Linked DNA regions of Homo sapiens: region 1 is linked to region 2. Evidence: fine-mapped QTL for protein levels in blood plasma. A gene starts in region 2. The other region holds a variant in brackets. All regions are shown on one strand. Distances are from middle to middle.

Region 1 (9,878 bases), 18 kb after region 2:
ACCCAAAGATACAGGAAAAACTGTCCATTTTTGTGCTTAGGTTCAACGAAGTATGGACAGCTATGTAGAACTGTGATCAGAATAAAGGGCATGAGCTAATGCAAACAGACTGAGTGGGAAAACTCAGCAAGGACTGTCTGTTCAGATTTTTCTTGGCCTCTCTGTGAAGGATTTCTTCTCATGGGTATGGGGTAGGACCTCTCTGGAATGAGGGTCTTAATTTCTTTATGGCCAGCTATTACACAGAAAGGTGGTGGTGGGAAAGGTTAGAGTAACATTTTTAGACTTTATGGCTGGTTTTGGGGAAAAGAGGCTCTAGTTTCTATGACCCATTTTAGGGAAGAGGGATTCTAGTTTCTCTTTCTTTCTTTCTTTCCTTTCTTTCTTTCTTTCTTTCTTTCTTTCTTTCTTTTTTTTTTTTTTTTTGAGACAGAGTCTTGCTCTGTCGCCCAGGCTGTAGTGCAGTGGCGCCCTCTGGGTTCACTGCACCCTCTGCCTCCTGGGTTCAAGCAATTCTACTCCTCAGCTTCCCCCATAGGTGGGATTACAGGTGCCCGCCACTATGCCGGGCTAATTTTTATATTTTTAGTAGAGATGGGGTTTCACTATGTAGGCCAGTCTGGTCTCAAACTCCTGACCTCAAGTGATCCGCCTACCTTGGCCTCCCAAAGGCCTGGGATTACACGCATGGGCCACTGCACCTGGCCAACACATTGTTTAAGCTCTTAGAATTCAGGAAACATTTTGGTGAGCCTTGAAGGCCATTTAATGTCACTTCAGAAAACAATCTAATTATAACTATTTTCTTCCTCTTTTTTATTCATTGCAAAATTCCCATTGTAAGGTTATTAGTCTAATTTCAATATCGTTATTAAGTCTTTTTTTTCTGAGATGGAGTATCGCTCCGTCACCCAGGCTGGAGTGCAGTGGCACAATCTCAGTTCACTGCAACCTCTGCCTCCTAGGTGTAAGTGAGTCTCGTGCCTTAGCCTCCCAAATATCTGGGGTTATAGGGATGCCCTACCATGCCCGGCTAATTTTTTGTATTTTTAGTAGAGATGTGGTTTCACCATGTTGGCCAGGCTGGTTTGAAACTCCTGACTTCAAGTGATCCTCCCATCTCGGCCTTCCAAAGTGTTGGCATTACAGGCGTGAGCTACCGCGCCTAGCCAAATATTGTTATTAAGTCTTATATGGGCAGTTCATGGTGCCCACAAACAATTACAATAGTAGCATCAAAGACCACTGATTGCAGATCATCATAACAGATATAATAATAATAATGAAAAAGTTTGGAATATTTTAAGAATTGCCAAAATGTGACACAGACACAAAATGAGCACTTGCTGTTGGAAAAATGGCACCAGTAGACTTGTTCAATAGAGTTGCCATAAACCTTCAATTTGCAAAAAATTTAATGTCTGCAAAGCACAATAAAGCAAAGTACAATAAAATGAGGTATGCCTGTAATTTAAAAATATGTAACATAGAATCTTAGGACAGTATATACTACCATATACTGTTTCTTTGTAATCCTGACCTTAGTAATCTGTGGCTTGTTTTTTCCTTAATGAATGTGAAAATGCAGGAACACATTCTTCTTTTTTTTTAGACGAGGTTTTGCTCTGTCACCCAGGATGGAGTGCAGTGGCACAATCATGGCTCACTGCAGCCTTGACCTCTTGGGCTCAAGCAATCCTCCTGCCTCAGCCTACCAAGTAGCTAGGACCATAGGCGTGTGCCATCATGCCAGGCTGATTTTTTTACTTTTTGTAGAGACGGGGTCTTTCTATATTGCCCAGGCTGGTCTTGAACTCCTGGCCTCAAGTGATTCTCCCACCTTGGCCTCCCAAAATGCTGGGATTACAGGTGTGAGCCACTGCACTTGGCCTCTTTTTTTTTTTTAATTAAAAAAAAGTGGCCGGGCGCGGTGGCTCACGCCTGTAATCCCAGCACTTTGGGAGGCTGAGGCGGGCGGATCACGAGGTCAGGAGATCGAGACCATCCCGGCTAAAACGGTGAAACCCCGTCTCTACTAAAAATACAAAAAAAATTAGCCGGGCGTAGTGGCGGGCGCCTGTAGTCCCAGCTACTTGGGAGGCTGAGGCAGGAGAATGGCGTGAACCCGGGAGGCGGAGCTTGCAGTGAGCCGAGATCCCGCCACTGCACTCCAGCCTGGGCGACAGAGCGAGACTCCGTCTCAAAAAAAAAAAAAAGTTTAATGGCAGGCAAAAATTATCTGTATTTATGGTGTAGAAGATGATGTTTTGATATATCTATACATTGTGAAATGGCTAAATCAAGTTATTTAACATATGTATTACCTCACATACCATTTTTTAAATGGTAAGAACACTTAAAATCCATTCTCTTAGGAATTTTCAACATAATACATTGTTATTAACTATAGTTACCACGGGATACAGTAGATTTCTTGTATTTATTGTTCCTAATTGAAAATTTGTGTCTTGAAATATCTATTCTTCCCACCCCCAGCCTCTGGTAACCACCTTTTTACTCTGTTTCTATGAAGAAACACATTCTTTAGGTCTCAGAATTCAGGAAACATTTTGGTGCGCATTGAAGGCCATTTAATGCCACTTTAGAAAAAAATCTAGTTATAACTGTTTCCTTCCTCTTTTTTTTTTTTTTGAGATGGAGTCTCACTATGTCGCCCACGCTGGTGTGCAGTGGCGCGATCTTGGCTCACTGCAAGCTCCGCCTCCCGGGTTCACGCCATTCTCCTGCCTTAGCCTCCCAAGTAGCTGGGACTACAGGTGCCCGCCACCAAGCCTGGCTAATTTTTTTGTATTTTTTTAATAGAGACGGGGTTTCACTGTGTTAGCCAGGATGGTCTCGATCTCCTGACCTCATGATCTGCCCATCTCGGCCTCCCAAAGGGCTGGGATTATAGGTGTGAGCCACCGCGCCCAGCCTCCTTCTTTTTTTTTTTTTCTTTTTTTTTTTTTTTTTTTTGAGATGGAGTTTTGTTCTTTTCGCCCAGGCTGGAGTGCAGTGGCACGATCTCGGCTGACTGCGCCCTCCGCCTCCCAGGTTCAAGCAATTCTCCTGCCTCAGCGTCCTGAGTAGCTGGGATTACAGGCATGCATCACCACACCCAGCTAATTTTTGTATTTGTAGTAGAGGCAGGGTTTCACCATGTTGGCCAGGCTGGTCTTGAACTCCTGACCTCAGGTGATTCACCCATCTTGGCCTCCCAAAATGCTGGGATTACAGGCGTAAGCCATCGCGCCTGGCCCCCTCTTTTTTATTAATTGCAAAATTCTGTAGCAACATGAATCAAGTTTCTGTCTTATTTGAAGAGAATCACTCTATTGGGCTGTTTCAGCAATAGCAGCTCATCTTGGACTCAATATTCTGGAAAGCAAATATGCCTTAACCATGCATAAATTAGTCTTACATGTGCTTAGTTTTTGCCCTTTGTTCCTTTACAATTTTGAGACATTTGAATTTCTTAATAATATCAAAAAGGCTCAAAGTACTAGCTAGAATGATGGCAAAATTCAAAGGTATATGTCTTTGGGTTTGCCCCTGAATCTTCAATAATCTGTCATATTTAAGTACAAGTTCTACAAGTTGCCTTTTAATAATGAATCACAACTATTACTAGGGCATGCATGGCTTTGTCTAGTTCTAAAAATGTTAAAGAATGGAATATAAGATACAGACTGAGATATGCTTGATTACAATTAGTCTACCATATTTAAATATGCCGCAGTGTATTCATTTACCAGGTGAATTATTTTCCTTCAAAGTGGTCTTTTTTTTTTTTTTTTTTGAGACGGAGTCTTGCTCTGTCTCCAGGCTGGAGTGCAGTGGCGTGATCTCAGCTTACTGCAACCTCCGTCTCCTGGGTTCAAGCAATTCTCCTGCCTCAGCCTCGAGAGTAGCTGGGACTACAGGCATGCACCACCAAGCCCAGCTAATTTTTTTGTATTTTAGTAAAGATGGGGTTTCACCATGTTGGCTAGGATGGTCTCGATCTCTCGACCTCATGATCTGCCTGCCTCGGCCTCCCAAAGTGCTGGTATTACAGGCCTGAGACACCGTGCCCGGCCCCAAAGTGGTCATCTTAAGAGACTATTCTAATTCCAGGAGTGCTGCTGTAAATATTACTGGCATTAATTCAGAAATGCCTTTAAGGAGTTTCCTAGATGTATATAAAAATAAGTAAATTATTTTTAGTCACAGGTCTTTCTATTTTTTATCTCCTATCTTTTTCACCTTCCTTTGCACTTTGTCCTAGATCTGCTCCTTTCCCTTTTCCTTTGTCTCTTATCCAATAGCTCATGTGCTGCCTGAGAGAGACTGTGTTAGTACTAGATAGAGGTAGTTGATTCTGGGCAGAAGGACTTTTTAGGGTGGAAGGTGAACATAAGACCAGAATCTAATTTATGGCTCATAATCAGGTGTATGTTAAGTCACCAATAAAGTGCAGACCTAACAGACTCTGAGAATGTATCTGTAAGACCTAGAAAAGGATGTACTTTTCTCCTCCATTGCCATTACCTTTTGACTTGGCTGATTCATCATAAACAAAATCTTCTGTAGACCTCCTAGCCAGGCACACTTCTAGCAACTACAGAGAATACAAAAAAGCACATAAGCTGGTTTTAGAGGACCAGAGCATTGATTCCCCTTAACTTTGGTTGCATACCAGCATTATCTAATGAAACATTAAAACACAAAACAAATATATGCCCTAGCATTAACCCTGGAGAATTCTGATTCAATAGGTTTCATGTGGTGTGGGACCCAGGAATCTGTATTTTAAAAGCTCCGCAAGTGATTCAGATGTACGCCTTGGCTAATAATCACTGGCTAAGGGCAAGGAAAGAATCTTAGGACATGAAAAGGAGCTCAAGTAGAATCTATTAGGAGGCTCGTTTCTGTAATCTTTGCCATTGTTAAAAGTGCCATAAGCAATAATACCTAGAAAGTACAGATGTTCCTTGATTTATGATTGTATTGTGTCCTAATAAACCCATAAACATATGATAAGTTGAAAATGAACGAAATACCCTGATAAATCCATCGTAAAGTCTAAAAATTGTAAGTTGAACCATTGTAAGTCAGGGACCATTTGTATCAAATATAGAACCATGGAATTATAGAATAGGAAAGTGTTATGCCCTAAAATTTTTATTTCATTGTATCCTTTTTGAATAATTGGATTTAGGAAACTTTTTTCCCTCTTACTGTACTGTATACTTCTTTTATTTTTCCCTTTCCTGTGGTGCTGAATTGTACTAAATACTTTAAAATCTCCATTTTAATTTATTTATATAGGATCCTGCTGGCCACTTTCATCAAGTATGGTATGATAACCCTCAGAGTATTTCTTTAAAGGCAACATATATACAAAACTATCGCTTACGGGGCATTGGCATGTGGAATGCAAACTGTCTTGACTACTCTGGAGATGCTGTAGCCAAACAGCAAACTGAAGAAATGTGGGAAGTCTTAAAGCCAAAGCTGTTACAGAGATGAACATCTTTTGTCAAACCATTAAGAGTTAGAAAGATGATCTGTATCAACAGATCTAGTTTCTTGCATTTTTATTATGTTGCTATATACTTTTGTTATCCGTATACTAAAAAAAAAGAATAAATAAATGTTTTGATTGTTTGAATTTGAAAAATACACACGAATGTCCTCAGTATCCAGGAACATAAAGGCAAGAAGCAAGTCAACTTACCTATTAAATATTCCTCTATTAGATGTTTCAACACTATAATTTAATTGGGAAAAATTGCTTTCAGAATTTTATTATGCCATATTTCCCTTCATTATAGTAAAATATATGCTCACGAATCAATGCTGATTTTTAAAATATGTATAATCTGAAGTGGAAATTGTTTGCTTAGAGTTTTTAAAAACCTAGTCTTTGAAAAGCAGTTTGTGCTATACTTTTCCCCCAACCCTCCAATAAATCTTAAATTTAAAACCTACAATGTAGTGTCTCCCCTTTAGGTTCATCAAACTGATGAAAATAATTTTTCTGCTTCCTGACTCCATATAGTATTTATGTTCTCTGAGGTACTTGAACTAAATCTTTGGACAGTGAGTGAGAATTAAAAAGAATCCAGAAGATTAAATGTATTCACAAAATAGAAGAATGTAACAGTAATATTTTGAATTGGTAAGTTAGAACTACCTAATATTTTCCAACTACATTATTTTTATGAGGCTCATTTGTAAAATTTTTAATAATAGGAATAACTTGCAGTTGAACTTGATTCTGTTCACTGTCACACTTCTAATTATTCATTTCTTCATTTATGGACATATATAATTTATTTCTTGGCTAGCTTGCTTACATGGTTAAATTTTTCTTTCTACATCTGCAATGTATCTTTTTTATTTTTATTTTTTGTAGAGACAGGGTCTCGCTATGTTGTCCAGATGGGTCTCCAACTCCTGGGCTCAAGCACTCCTCCTGCCTTGGCTTCCTAAAGAGCTGGGATTACAGGCATGAGCTGCATTGTGCTTTTAATGATCTAAAGACACTGATTAGCTTCTCAACTAGTTCTCTTTCTAAAAGATCAATTTTATACAAATAAGTTTTCTAAATGTAATAAAGTCTGTTTTCTTTCTCCAGGGAATTAAGAACAACATTGTGCTGCCCTTATTAGTTCCTAATTACAGATTAAAAATCTGTATCTTTGAACTCTAGATTTACATAAATCCTGGCTTCCCTGCACATTTTGCCCCTGTAAATTGGAATACATGATGATTGAACCATCTGTTATGAGAATATTACATTTCCTATTTACACAATTGTTTGTGACAGAGTAA[AAAC/C]CATTTTCATAGTATATGTTGGATCACTGTTGTCTTCATATTTCTAAAATAAATGAATTAAAAAATTTAAATTCTTAGATGCTTATCTCTATCATAGCTCAGAATGCAACTTCAATACCCCCATTCTTTTATATTTCCAGATTTCTTTTAATTAAGATATAATGAACAAATTAAGTTAAATGAAGTCTGTATTTTCATGCAAATATATTAGTATTCATTAATATACATTTATTCTTTGCAAATAGATTTTAGTTATATTAGCTCTTAAATTGTTAAATAAATTATTATTGAATTTTATTATTAAATTATTAAAATGAAAATTATAAAATTAGCACTGTAAAATAATATGTAAAGGACTTGGAATGTTAAAAATAACCATTCATCATTTTGCTTTATATTACATCTAATATTTCCTGAAACATTTTGTAATACCCACATGGAAAGTGGAGAAAGAGAAACCTTGTGCTTTTTATAAAACATTGCCAAGGAGAATAATGGTTAAACAAATCTGTTCAAATACATATTTAAATTTTTTTACAAATAAAAGTTTTAAATTAACATACCTAATTGAGATTGTAGAGATGTATTATTTTTTTTTTCTGTGCCAGTTCAGTTTTCAATGTTCGTAAATCTGAAACTGCTTGTTTTCTCATCTATAAAAAGAATTACTTTTCAAAAATGAACTTCATCATACCCTTCTAAAAGTACATCATAGTTGTCATGTAAACAGGGTTTTTGTAACCGCTTTAACTGTCTTCTCTCATTTGGCTTCAGTGCTTTCAACTCCCACTGGATTACTACAGTAAATGTGTAGATTATGAATGCTGTTTAATAAGCATGCTTATCTACTGGTGAGATATGCTATAAGGTAACCTTGTTTATGAGTAGATAGGGACAATACAATTGAACTGTTCTAAAAACTAGAGTGAGAAAGAATTTTATGTTTTGCTTAAACTTCAAAACCTGTTGTTCTCAATGTGTAAAGAAAATAGTGAAAACAACAAGAAAACAAAATACAAAAAAAACCCTTAATTCCTAGCCCTTAGGAACGGAATAGATATTTCAGAAATATAGTGTTTACTCTGTGGCAAGCACTCTTCTAAGTGTATTAGTCTCTTATTTTTTTTTCAAAAATTTTACAGAATCAGATACTAGTATTTATCCCCATTTTACAGTTGAAATGGAGACCTTTAGAGGCTAAGTAACTTGCTCAAGATAAAAAACTAGTAAGTGAAGTGGGTACAGCCAGGATTCAAATTCAAACCACCTGGTACCAGAGCCCTTACTATTCCAAGTGTTGTCTGTGGACAGCAGCATTAGCATCAGTTGGGAGCTTGTTAGGTAGGAAGAATCTCAGGCTGCACCCAGACCTACTGAGTCAGATCCTGCATTTTTAAACAGGATCCTCAGATGATATATTAAACTTTGAGAAGCACTACTTATGCTATACTATCTTGAATAAATATGGTTGCAAGAGACTCAGGCTGGGTTTTTTTTGTCCCTTAGTTCTGAATCTTATAGGTAGTGCTGTTTTGGGGAGATCATTCAGAAATCAATAAAACTTCTTAAATAATGTCTGTTATGTGTCAATCAGGCACTATGGTTAAATACAGGATTTTTTCCCCCCAGCCTATAAGCTGAAAACTTTGTTCTCTTTTTTTCCTCTTATTCCACTTGTCCTTACTGTTTTTGTATGAACAATTCTAATTTGAGTTCAAACCATGAGTGACATTTGTAATGTTAAAATATACAAAGATTACAAGTAATGTGCATGCTTTCCAGAAGAAAACAGCATGAGGGGAGTCATAATCCAAGCCTCTGGGGGCATTTTTATTACTCCTTCCTACCTACCCAATTATTAAGTGTACAAGTTTACATATTGGCTTTATCTCCATATATTGAATAGACAGTTTTCCTTCATTGAACAAATTATTTTTTGAGTGCATATTTAACTGATATTTTGTTAAAAATTATCCTCTGCTCTTTTCCTTTTCTATTTTAAGTTTTAAGCTTCTCAGTGCCAAACCAGGGCTTATTTAGCCTCGAGAATGCTGCTTGTAAAAAGAATCTAGAACTGCACTGTCCAGTATAGTAGAAGCCAGTTGCCATATGTAACTACTAAACTTAAATTAACTAAAATTAAATAAAATTTAAAATTCAGTTCCTCAGTCACACAAACTACATTTCAAGTGCTCAATATCAATAGGTGGCTAGTGGGTACCAATCTGACAGTGCAGGCATAGAACATTTCTATCATCACATAAGTTCTGTTGGACAGTGCTAATTCTATTTTTTTATTTTTAAATTTTATTTATTTTTATTTTTATCTGAAACCGAGGACAGTACTGATTTTCTTTTTTCTTTTTAAAATTTTTTTAAAAAGAGCTAATTCTAGAATGCAGTCATTATTCTGTGTCATAAAGCTGTTTCTGATAAAGAAATGAGAGCATTCATATAATTATCGTTCTCATTTTCCTGCCTTGCTGTGGGTACTTGTATGAAAATGTATAATCTTCTGTTTTCTGTTCAACAAAAAAGCTTTTTAATACATATGTACTTCACAGATAATTTCTATGATGTAATTAGTTGTACACAATTCTCACCAAATAGAGCATGCCCAGAAGCCTCTACTAAGCATCTGCTATACAAAAGGTCCCATGGGAGAAACAAAGTTAACTAAGGCATAGTCTCTGCCAGGAAGGAAACTTAACATCTAGTAGAAGACACATTATTCATATTTAAATAATAGAATACATATGAAAATAACCAGAAAAAATGAAACGATTACCCATAAAAAATTAAATGTCAGTTCAGAGGAGAGCTCAGTGGTTTATCAGACTTAATAATTCTAATACAGGAAAACTACTTAAAATTTTTTTTGAGAATATATTGACTCACAGGTTCCTTTTCCTTTAATTCTTCCTAGTAAAATTTTACTAAATTTTACTTTGGCTTTATTATATCATGTATCTTTTCACAGGTTTAGTTTTTCTTCCTGCATTTTTTTTTTCACCTATGCTCTTTACTGTTAAGGTAACAATTTTAATACAGTCAAT
Region 2 (10,124 bases):
GCCACCACACCCGGCCCACGTGAATGGTTTTAATAAAACATTTAATTAGATATGGTTAAGTTGTCAAAAACAAACATTTCTCCTTGGCTTAAAAATGTTATAACACAGGGTTGGACGCAGTGGCTCATGCCTGTAATTCCAGAACATTGGAAGGCCAAGACAGAAGGACTCCTTGAGCACAGGAGTTCCAGACCAGCCTGAGCAACATAGCAAAACCTCACCTCTACTAAAATAAATAAATAAATACATAAAAGCCAGGCATGATGGCATGTACCTGTAGTCCTAGCTACTCAGGAGGCTGAGGTGCGAGGATTGCTGGACCCCAGGAGATGGAGGCTGCTGTGAGCTTGATCAAGTCACTGCACTCTAGCCTGGGTGACAGAGACCCTGTCTGGAAAAAAAAAGTGATAACACAAAACTTGCACATGAATGTTTATAGCAGCTTTATTCATAATTTTCAAAACTTGAAAGCAACCAAGATGTCCTTCAGTAGGTGAATGGATATTGACATCAGGGGTTTTTCTGGACAAATCATACACCCAGATCACCCTACAGTGAAATTCAAAAAAGTGATAACACAAAATCCATTCAGTAGGTGAATAGATACATCAGTGGTTTTCTGGACAAATCATACACCCAGATCACCCTACAGTGAAATTCAAAGTTAAAAGCACCAGCTATCTACTTGGAGCTTCCTCTCTTTGTACTTTTTAATTTTTACTTTTAATCATGGACAGCAACCAAGAAAATCCAATAATGTAGAAGGAAGGGACCCAAACAACAGACAAAGGAATATGGAGGAAGCAGATGCTGCAGGATTGGATTAACTGTAGTACGTCCCAACAATGAAGTATTATTCAGTGCTAAAAAGAAATGAGCAATCAAGCCATGAAGGGACATGGAGGAACCATAAATGCGTATTACTAAGTGAAGGAAGCCAATCTGAAAAGCTATATACTGTAAGATTCCAACTATGTGACATTCTGGAAAAGGCAAAACTATGGAGACAGTGTAAAAATCTGTGGATGCCAGTGGTTAGCAAGGAGAGAGGAATGAATAGGTAGAGCACAGATAATTTTGAGGGCAGTGAAACTATTCTGTATGATACTATAATGCTGGATACACATCATTATACATTTGTCAAAGCCCATAGAATGTACAGCACCAATATAAAATTCAATACAAATATGTAGGAATTCCTCATTTGGTTAGTATGCAGAAAAGAGTTACCGTAACAGGCCTAAGACTGCGATCTTTAGAAAGGCCTGCTTCCTGAAGGTTGGCCTGTAGGTGGATTTGGGAGTGTTCCTGCTGTTCCCTGAGTCTCTAATGAGCTTCCATGGCAGACAGCCCTTCACACATGTTACAACGTGATGCTTGTGCTTGGCCTCCTCCTGTCTTCTTCCTGTGCACTTTTTCCCTTTGCTCTTTTGCTTCATATTCTTCTGCTGTAATAAATCTTAACTGTGAGTACAACTGAGTCCTATGAGTTCTTTTAGTGCATCACTGAACCTGGAGGTGATCTTAGGGATCCCTAACACAGGTAGATATGTGTTTTCTTCTGTGTCACAGAATACAGTCTGATTCTATGAGTCAGAAGGCTCTTTTCCTTGAAAACTTGATTCAGTGCAACCATTCATGTTAAAAACATAGTTACATTTCAGTATCATGAGGGATTGGTTCCAGGACTCCCAGATACCAAAATCCATGGATGCTCAAGTCCCTTATATAAAATGGCATAATCTATGCACATCCTCCTGTACTTCAAATAATCTCTAGATTAATTATAATAATACGATGTAATGCTATGTTGACAGTGCTCTTGCCGTATTTTTATTTGCATTTTTAAATTGCTGTATTATTTGTTATTTTTAAATACTGTTATCTGACATTGGTTAAAACCATGGATGTGGAACCTCTGGTTATGGAGGTTCAATTGTACTTTTTTTTTTTTTGAGACAGGATCTTGTTTTGTCACCCAGGCTGGAGTGCAGTGGCATGATCATAGTTCACTTCAGCCTCAACCTCCCGGCTTCAAGCAATCCTCTCATCTCAGCCTCCCGAGCAGCTGGGACTACAAGCTTTTACCACCGCACTGGCACACAGGGCTAATTTTTTGCTTTTTATTTTTTGTAGAGACAGGGTCTATGTTCCCCAGGCTGGTCTCAAACTCCTGCCCTCAAGTAATCCTCCTGCCTTGGCCTGCCAAAGTTATGCAATTGCAGGTGTGAGCCACAGTGCCTGGCCTAGCTTTTCATTCTGAAAACGCGTGTTCTTCAGTCCTGGAGCCTTGATAATTACTTATTTCTTTTCTTTTCTTTTTTTTTTTTTTTTTTGGAGACAGAGTCTCACTCTGTTGCTGAGGCTGGAGTGCAGTGGTGTGATCTCTGCAACCTCCACCTCCCAGGTTCAAGCGATTCTCCTGCCTCAGCCTTCCGAGTAGCTGGGATTACAGGTGTCTGCCACCATGCCCAGATAATTTTTGTATTTTTAGTAGAGATGGGGTTTCACAATGTTGGCCAGGCTGGTCTCAAACTCCTGAGCTCAAGTGATCTGCCCACCTCGGCCTCCCACAGTGCCGGGATTACAAGCATGAACCACTGTGCCCAGCCCAAATTACTTATTTCTTCTTATTTGTACTACGCTGCTTCTCAAGCACCTTTAAGAATTATTTATTTCATCCCCTCTGTACTGCGTTTTCCAATTTTCTTATCTTTCAGAGTTTTTGCTCTACATTCCTCAGTGTTATCTTCTACTAATAGTTTTTTCACTTCTTTCTTATTTCTATTAACTTTTAAAAATCCCCTACCCCTTTTATTGCACCCTGTTGTGGCTTCATCTTCTCTTATTTTTCTGGGGCTATTATGAGAATTTTTAAAAGTGTTCTCCCTGCAGCATCTGCTTCCTCCATATTCCTTTGTCTGTTGTTTGGGTCCCTTCTTTCTACATTATTGGATTTTTTTGGTTGCTGTCCATGATTAAAAGTAAAAATTAAAAAGTACAAAGAGAGGAAGCTCCAAGTAGATAGCTGGTGCTTTTAACTTTGAATTTCACTGTAGGGTGATCTGGGTGTATGATTTGTCCAGAAAACCCGATGTCAGTATCTTTGCTCAGCCTCTTAGGTTAATCAGATAGCGAGGGGTTTCAGTTTTCAGTAGGCATAAAGCCACTTATTCTCCGTTTTAGGTGGAATACCCACTCAGCAGAGAATTTATCCCCTTCAGGGAATTCAGCCGGGGTGGGAGCCCGTGGTGGGAAAGAGGGGCAGCTGCCCAGAGACATGAAGCTGGAAAAAGGATCTAGCGATCAGAGTCCTTGAGCAGCCTTTGACTAATCTCCCCCTTTTCCGATTTACCTCTCATACTCATACTTGTGCTCTCCAGCTTCCAACATTTTGTTGCTGTTATCTCTTTGTCCTTGTGTTTAGGTTGTTAAACTTGATTTTTAACAGGAGAGTAGGCAAAATTAGATGCTTGAATTCAAACCACGATCTTAACTAAGACCTGATATCCGTAAGTAAAAATTTTTGGTATTCCAGCTTTCTTTTGAGTAGCAAAAGAAAAACAAAGTCTTTTGGCCACTCCAACCATGTTACTCAGTAGGCCCTTCCAAAGACACCCACTTCTCCATTTTGGGGATCCCCTTGTACCTTCAGACTCCACAAGGAGTACACGACCAGCCACGACAAAACGAGATGCAGACTATTGGGAGGACTATAAACGGTAGGGGTGATACCCATTTGAGTCCACGAACGGCCCTCTCGGCGCCGCAGACACTGGCTGTCCCCCGAGACGCTCCAGCAGCCACTTAACTTCACCCACCTGTAGCGCCCGGGGACGCTCGAAGCCCGACCTCCCACGCCCGCCCCGGAGCCCCGCCCCTCCCGCCCCTCCCCGCCCTTCCCGACTCTCCCCGCCCCTTCCTGCCCCGACGCGCAGCAGGCCCCGCCCACCCAGGCGGTAGGAACCCACTCCGGCCCGCTAGACCTGCTGCTATGTCCCGGCCGCAGCTTCGACGCTGGCGCCTCGTCTCTAGCCCGCCGAGCGGCGTCCCGGGTCTAGCGCTGCTGGCGCTGCTGGCGCTGCTGGCGCTGCGGCTCGCGGCCGGGACCGACTGCCCATGCCCGGAGCCTGAGCTCTGCCGCCCGATTCGCCACCATCCAGATTTCGAGGTCAGCGCCTTCCTCTGCTCCTCTAGGTCTGGGCTTCAGGGCACGAAGAGAAGTTAGGGTAGAACGGAGCCCTAAGGAGAGGTGCCGTGGGCGCCGAAACCAGCTTTGACCACTCGATGAGGGCCTTCCTGTTTACGGATCCTTCAATTTATAGATGAGGAAGCTCGGGCTCAGAGAAGTTGAGTAACTCCTCAGGCCTCACAGCCTGTAAGTGCCTGCGTAGGCAGGCGAGAGTTCAAACCAGATCTGCCTCCTAAGGCAAGCTCCTTTCATTCCCCTGCTGTGCCTCTGCGGAAGCACTCTGGGTGTAAAAAGCAAACAAGGTAGGATAATCCATTTATGTTTCCAAGGAACGAGGATTTCGTTTGAAAGAATCTCAGCACTCCAACAGTACATTAGAATGCAGAGTATTTTGCTTACCTTTAGTTTTCTATACCTGCTAGCCCTTTCCTTTAAAGTACCTCAAAACCACCCATGAAGAGTGGTAAAAAAAATAGCTTTCAGTACATTTTCCTTCTATCTACATAACAATTTGTAAGGCTTCTGGCAACTTTAATCAAACACCTTCTGGAGCAATATTAAAACCACCTGACTGCCCACTTCGATGACTGAAAGCAGGAATTGGATGACATCAGGAAGGTCCAAAGGCTTAATTCAAAGAACGATTCTTTTGTAGAAATAGGCATGATTCCTAGTTCTTAATCTAGTACATTAATCTGAGGCAGAACACTTAGATGCCAGTAAAAAAGTATATATACATGACTTAGGAGAAGAAATAAAAATGGTGAAAGTGTTTATGGAGAACCTGCCTAGTGTGGAAACCTAACATCTTATTAAAAGAAAGACTTCAGACAAAGTAGGATAACCTTTTTTATTTGAGCAAAGAACAACTTATGAATCGGCAGTACTTAAACCAGAAGGGGTTCAGAGAGGTCTGCTTTAGTAGCATGGGCTTTTATAGGCCGAACAGGGAAGCAAAGGAAAATAATTACTTGGTTGGCTATGACTGTTTGCCTTATTTAGCTATGACTTGGTGGAAAATTACTAGTTAGAGGTTAGTTGGCAGTTTCTGATAGGTTAAGCTTAAGTTTCCTTTCACTGTTGACCTTGGGCTGGAGTTTGCTTAAGCAGGAAATCCAAGGCAGTTGGAGCTGTTTCAGCATAATGGCCTCCCAATTAAAATGTTTTATACAATCTGAGGCCCAGCGCGGTGGTAGAGGCAGTGGGGACAGTAGCTGTAAAAGTTCAACCAGACATTTCTTAATTTTCTCAATCTCTTTTTGAGATTGAGAAGCACTTTGTGAGGCCAAGGTGGGTGGATCACTTGAGGTCAGGAATTCGAGAACAGCCTGGCCAACATGGTGAAACCCCGTCTCTACTAAAAATACAAAAATTAGCTGGGCGTGGTGGCGGGCACATGTAATCCGAACTACTTGGGAGGCTGAGGCAGGAGAACCGCTTGAACCTGGGAGGCGGAGCGGGAGGCGGAAGGTTGCAGTTAGCCAAGATCACGCCACTGCACTCCAGCCTGGGCGACAGAGCAAGACTATGTCTCAAAAAAGAGAAAAAAAAAAAACCTGAAAGATTTACTGTAGTACCCAATACTTAGTGGGTTAGGCAATATCTGTGGGCACTTTGAAAACCAACTATTCAAAGAAGCAAAATTATGCTTATTTGTATCTTCATGGTAAATGGTCTTTTTCTCTACTGGCGTTTTCTATGTTTTTCAAACACAAAAACTAGACTACATGGCATTTTCCCCTTATATTTTCAATTAGTTCACCCAGCTTTTTTTTTTTTTAAGGATATCTGTTATATCACAGGCTCTTAGTATTTTTTAAACAAATAGAATCTTAATTATCAGAACTAAAATAGAAGTTTTGATAGAAATATGAGTCAGAAAACAATGGGCCACTTAATTTCACATTATGAATTTTTATTATTTCAGTAGGCAATTGCTTAGCAGAAAAAATGAGTTATGCATAATTAATTCTGAAAAGTTAAAAAAAATTAAAAAAAATTAAGAAATGCCTGGTTTAACTTTTACAGCTGCTATCCCCACTGTCTCTCCCTCATTCATTCCCCTCACAAGGACCCAGTGATCTCTTTTGTAATGCATATCCCCTGAATTAAAACTCTAATTGATTCCCACTGATCCCAAGATAAAATACAACATCTTCAGTGGTCTTGGAAGTCCTACTTAATCTTTCCACTACCGACTTTAAAGGTTTTATCCAGTTCCACATACTTGCAGGATTTCTGTGCTCTACCTACATTGACCTTTTTCAGTTCCAGAATCTCAGAATTCTCCTGAGGTGTAGCGACCTTTGGGCTTTCCCTTCCCTCAGTTGAGAATGCAATCTTTTGTCCATAGGTATATCTCTTCCATCATTCTGCTGATTTCAGCCCACTCCGAAAGTGTGTAGTCCTCAGAAAAGTTTTCGTGCACCATCTGGCTAGCAGGTCCCCTTTATATGCTGGCGTGGCCCCCTGTAACCCCTACAGTCCTTAATACCATTGTAATTAAGTAGTTAACTCCTTACTGGACCTGGTCTCTCTCATTAATCTTTATCTCCTTAGAGCCTAGCAAAATACTCTCCTTGTACCTTATTGGAAATTCAATAAATATTTGCCAAATCAATGAATTAATGCCTTGGAATAAAATAAAAATAATCAGTGAGGCTTCTGTGCTTCTTGAATTAACTGTGGGAAGAAAATATCAGAGAAACACAACATCAGGTGCCTTAGAATTTGACCTAGGTACTATTCTAAGAAGCTAGCTTCACCAAACAAACAAAAAACAGTAAATGTATTTATGGCTCCATCTGCAGTAGCCAGAAACTTGAGTATTATCAGACTTCTCTCCTTTGATTACTCATTCGATTAGTCACAAAGTCCTGTCAATTTTGCCTCCTTAGGATCTTCCAGATCTGTTCACTTAACGCCACTGCTCCACAATTTTAGTTGAGGTCACCATCATCTCTTACTTGGATTCCTCCAACAGTTTCTGTATTCTGCCTCCAGTTTTGGTGTCTCTTTAATCCTTTTCCCACTGCAGCTGAAAATATTTTTCTAAAATGCATACCTTCCCCTTTTAAAAATGCTTTTATTCTCTCCCTTTACCTCAGGATAAACAAGGTAGTACTAACTTCTCAACAGAGCTTATGAGGCCTTTCATGATTTAATCCATGCCTACTACTCTCTGGTCCTTCACTAATGCTCTCTCCCCAAATTCTAGACGTCGGCCATACTAAATATTTAGTTACGCAACCACCATGTTGTCTCTGCCTCCAGGCCTTGGCACTTGCCACTCTTCCTTCCTGGCCCATCCTTCCCCTCTTTCCCAGCCTGGCTAATTACCCCTGCCACCAATTATCTTGGGACCCCTATGTCTTATGCACTTGTACTCTCACTGCCACCATAGTGTTTGGTGTATGGTGATGTTTGATGAACGGTATTTTGGACGGTCAGCATAATATTCTTGGTTTAAATGATGGTGCTCATCTTTGTTCTGGCAGGTCTTTGTGTTTGATGTTGGACAGAAAACTTGGAAATCTTATGATTGGTCACAGATTACAACTGTGGCAACATTTGGAAAATATGACTCAGAACTTATGTGCTACGCTCATTCAAAAGGAGCCAGAGTAGTACTTAAAGGTATGTTGTTTCCAGATCTATGTGTGCAGCAATTGGGAAATTTATCTGTATCACTTGCTATAGTCCCGACTTTCCAAAAAAGTCCTTTTATGTTTATCTGTTTTTGTTAGGATCCTATAATTAATCTTAGATACTGTGTAATTCATTTCACAAACACAGATCTTTTTAAAAGAATTAAACCACTGTATGGTTTTGAGCAAAATGTTAACTGCCAAATTAGCCTTATGACCTTTACTTAATCATAGTCCACAATTTCTGTTTCTAACTTCAGAACAATTTTACTAATGATTTATAATGGTTATTTTGGAGATTCATGAGTAATGGCTTTCTGTTACTTTGGTATATTCTTTCTCCATTGGAAAACTTCAGTTAAGGGCTTAGTCTTCCAAAATAATGAAATGTTTTTGCATACATGTTCAAAAGATATATACTTCTTCCACAGGAGATGTATCCTTAAAGGATATCATTGATCCTGCTTTCAGAGCATCCTGGATAGCTCAAAAACTTAATTTGGCCAAAACACAATATATGGATGGAATTAATATAGATATAGAGCAAGAAGTTAATTGTTTATCACCTGAATATGATGCATTAACTGCTTTAGTCAAAGAAACTACAGACTCTTTCCATCGTGAAATTGAGGGATCACAGGTAAAAACTCATTTATTTTTTGGAAACCTCATATTTTCCATATCAGAATATACTCATGAGGGTATAACTAATATAATCTTTGTTTTATAGTAATGCAATGGGAAAGAGTTTCAGCACTTATTTCCTAAAAAATTTTTCTGGAGCCTTTGGTGTTCTTATTTAAGGAATTTTAAAGCCCTAAATCTATTCTCTATTCACAGCAAAATACAACACTGGGATTACCCCCACTACTTGCCTTGTAGCACAGTTAGAAGTGTTAGGCAATGGGAGAACAAAAATCAAGGGGGGCGCCTAACCAGCTTTTACCAATGCAGGACAGAAACAACCCAGGAGTAGAGGTAGTTCTGGGGAAGTGTATCACTTGCTCTACAGTCTCTGAATTACTTGCACCCAAGGCCCAGTAAAGCTTAAAGGACTAACTACACAGAACTGTGACAGCTATAACAATAGGCAGTGTGCTTCCCCACTGCCATAATGAACATGATTAGAGCAGAAGGTAACAACACAAGCTATCTTGCCAGACAACAGATGGGTAACAGAGGATAATGTGAACCCAGATCAGTGATCCTCAAACTTGGCCACATATCAAGATAACCATAGGTCTTAAGGAAAAGTAAGCATGTGTTTACTTTTCCACACACATGCACACTGTGAACTCACTCCCAGAAATGATTTTTCAAAAGGTTTTGGGTAATCCCAGAGCCCCCAATTTTAAAAAAGTTTCATTGGTGATTATAGTTAAGAAGTAATAGGCTAGACAATGAGTTTTTTTGAAGACGGGGTGCAGCTCCTTGATATCTAACAGAATGCTTAAAAATGTATTCCAGTATAGAGCATTATGAGTATTATAAACCAGTGATTCCTAAACCTGTCTCAGAATTACCTGAGAGTGCTTGTTTAAAATATCCTGAGTGTATTAGTTTGTTCTCACATTGCTATAAAGAAATACCTGAGACTGGGTAATTTATAAAGACAATAGGTTTAATTGGCTCACGGTTCTGCAGGCTATACAGGAAGCATAATGCTGACATCTGCTTGGCTTTTGGGAGGCCTCAGGAAAACTTACAGTCATGGTGGAAGGCAAAGCGGGATCAGCACTTCAAACAGCCAGAGAAGGAGAAAGAGAGAGGGTGGGGAGGTGCCACACACTTTTAAACAATCAGATCTTGTGAGAACTCTATCACGAGAACAGCACTGGAGGGGGAAATCTGCCCCTGTAATCCAGTTACCTCCTACCAGGCCCTACCTCCAACATTGGGGATTACGATTCAACATGAGATTTGGGCGGGGACACAGATCCAAACCATATCACTGAGATTGACTCAGTAGGTCTGGGATAGAGCTTAGAGAACTGTATTTTTGCCAAGTGTCCTAGGTGATTCTGGTAGAGTTGGTCATCATGAATTTGAAAATTACAGGTAAAATAATTTGAGAATTACTGGTAAAATAATAAGCAATATGACGACTGACATTTCTGTGGTTTTATGCAAATAGGGAAGATCTGTCAGTATGGAATTCAACTTGTCAGGAGAGTACAATGTAGATTAAGAACAGCAAATACCTGGCATACAGGCCACAATACCCCTTCTCCTCCTCACACATTTTGGCCTCAGAAACTTTTCCTTCATTCTCTAGATAGTGATTA

Evidence for each region. PIP is the posterior inclusion probability: the model's chance that the variant is causal. The UK Biobank Pharma Proteomics Project read protein levels with antibody pairs (Olink). The fine-mapping took linkage between variants from a reference panel, not from the people measured, so its PIPs are less certain.
Region 1: its variant is fine-mapped to the plasma level of the CTBS protein (UK Biobank, PIP above 0.99).

Annotation. Positions count from the first base shown.
Region 1 is chr1:84,550,632-84,560,509 of GRCh38, reverse strand. It overlaps SPATA1 (spermatogenesis associated 1), which reads right to left. Exons shown (of 14, transcript NM_001397487.1): 13 at 4,531-4,600. It overlaps CTBS (chitobiase), which reads left to right. Exons shown (of 7, transcript NM_004388.3): 7 at 5,311-9,878. The coding sequence ends at 5,511. Among named protein-coding and RNA genes, the nearest start is that of CTBS, 19 kb to the left of the region's middle. The variant AAAC/C (reference allele first, on the strand shown) is at 6,820.
Region 2 is chr1:84,568,286-84,578,409 of GRCh38, reverse strand. CTBS (chitobiase) reads left to right here and starts at 3,970. Exons shown (of 7, transcript NM_004388.3): 1 at 3,970-4,171; 2 at 7,690-7,828; 3 at 8,271-8,479. The coding sequence starts at 3,995. It overlaps LOC105378819 (a long non-coding RNA gene), which reads right to left and starts at 394. Exons shown (of 2, transcript XR_947544.4): 1 at 275-394. RefSeq lists silencers at 1-64, 3,838-3,957 and enhancers at 4,118-4,407, 4,518-4,617, 5,331-5,380.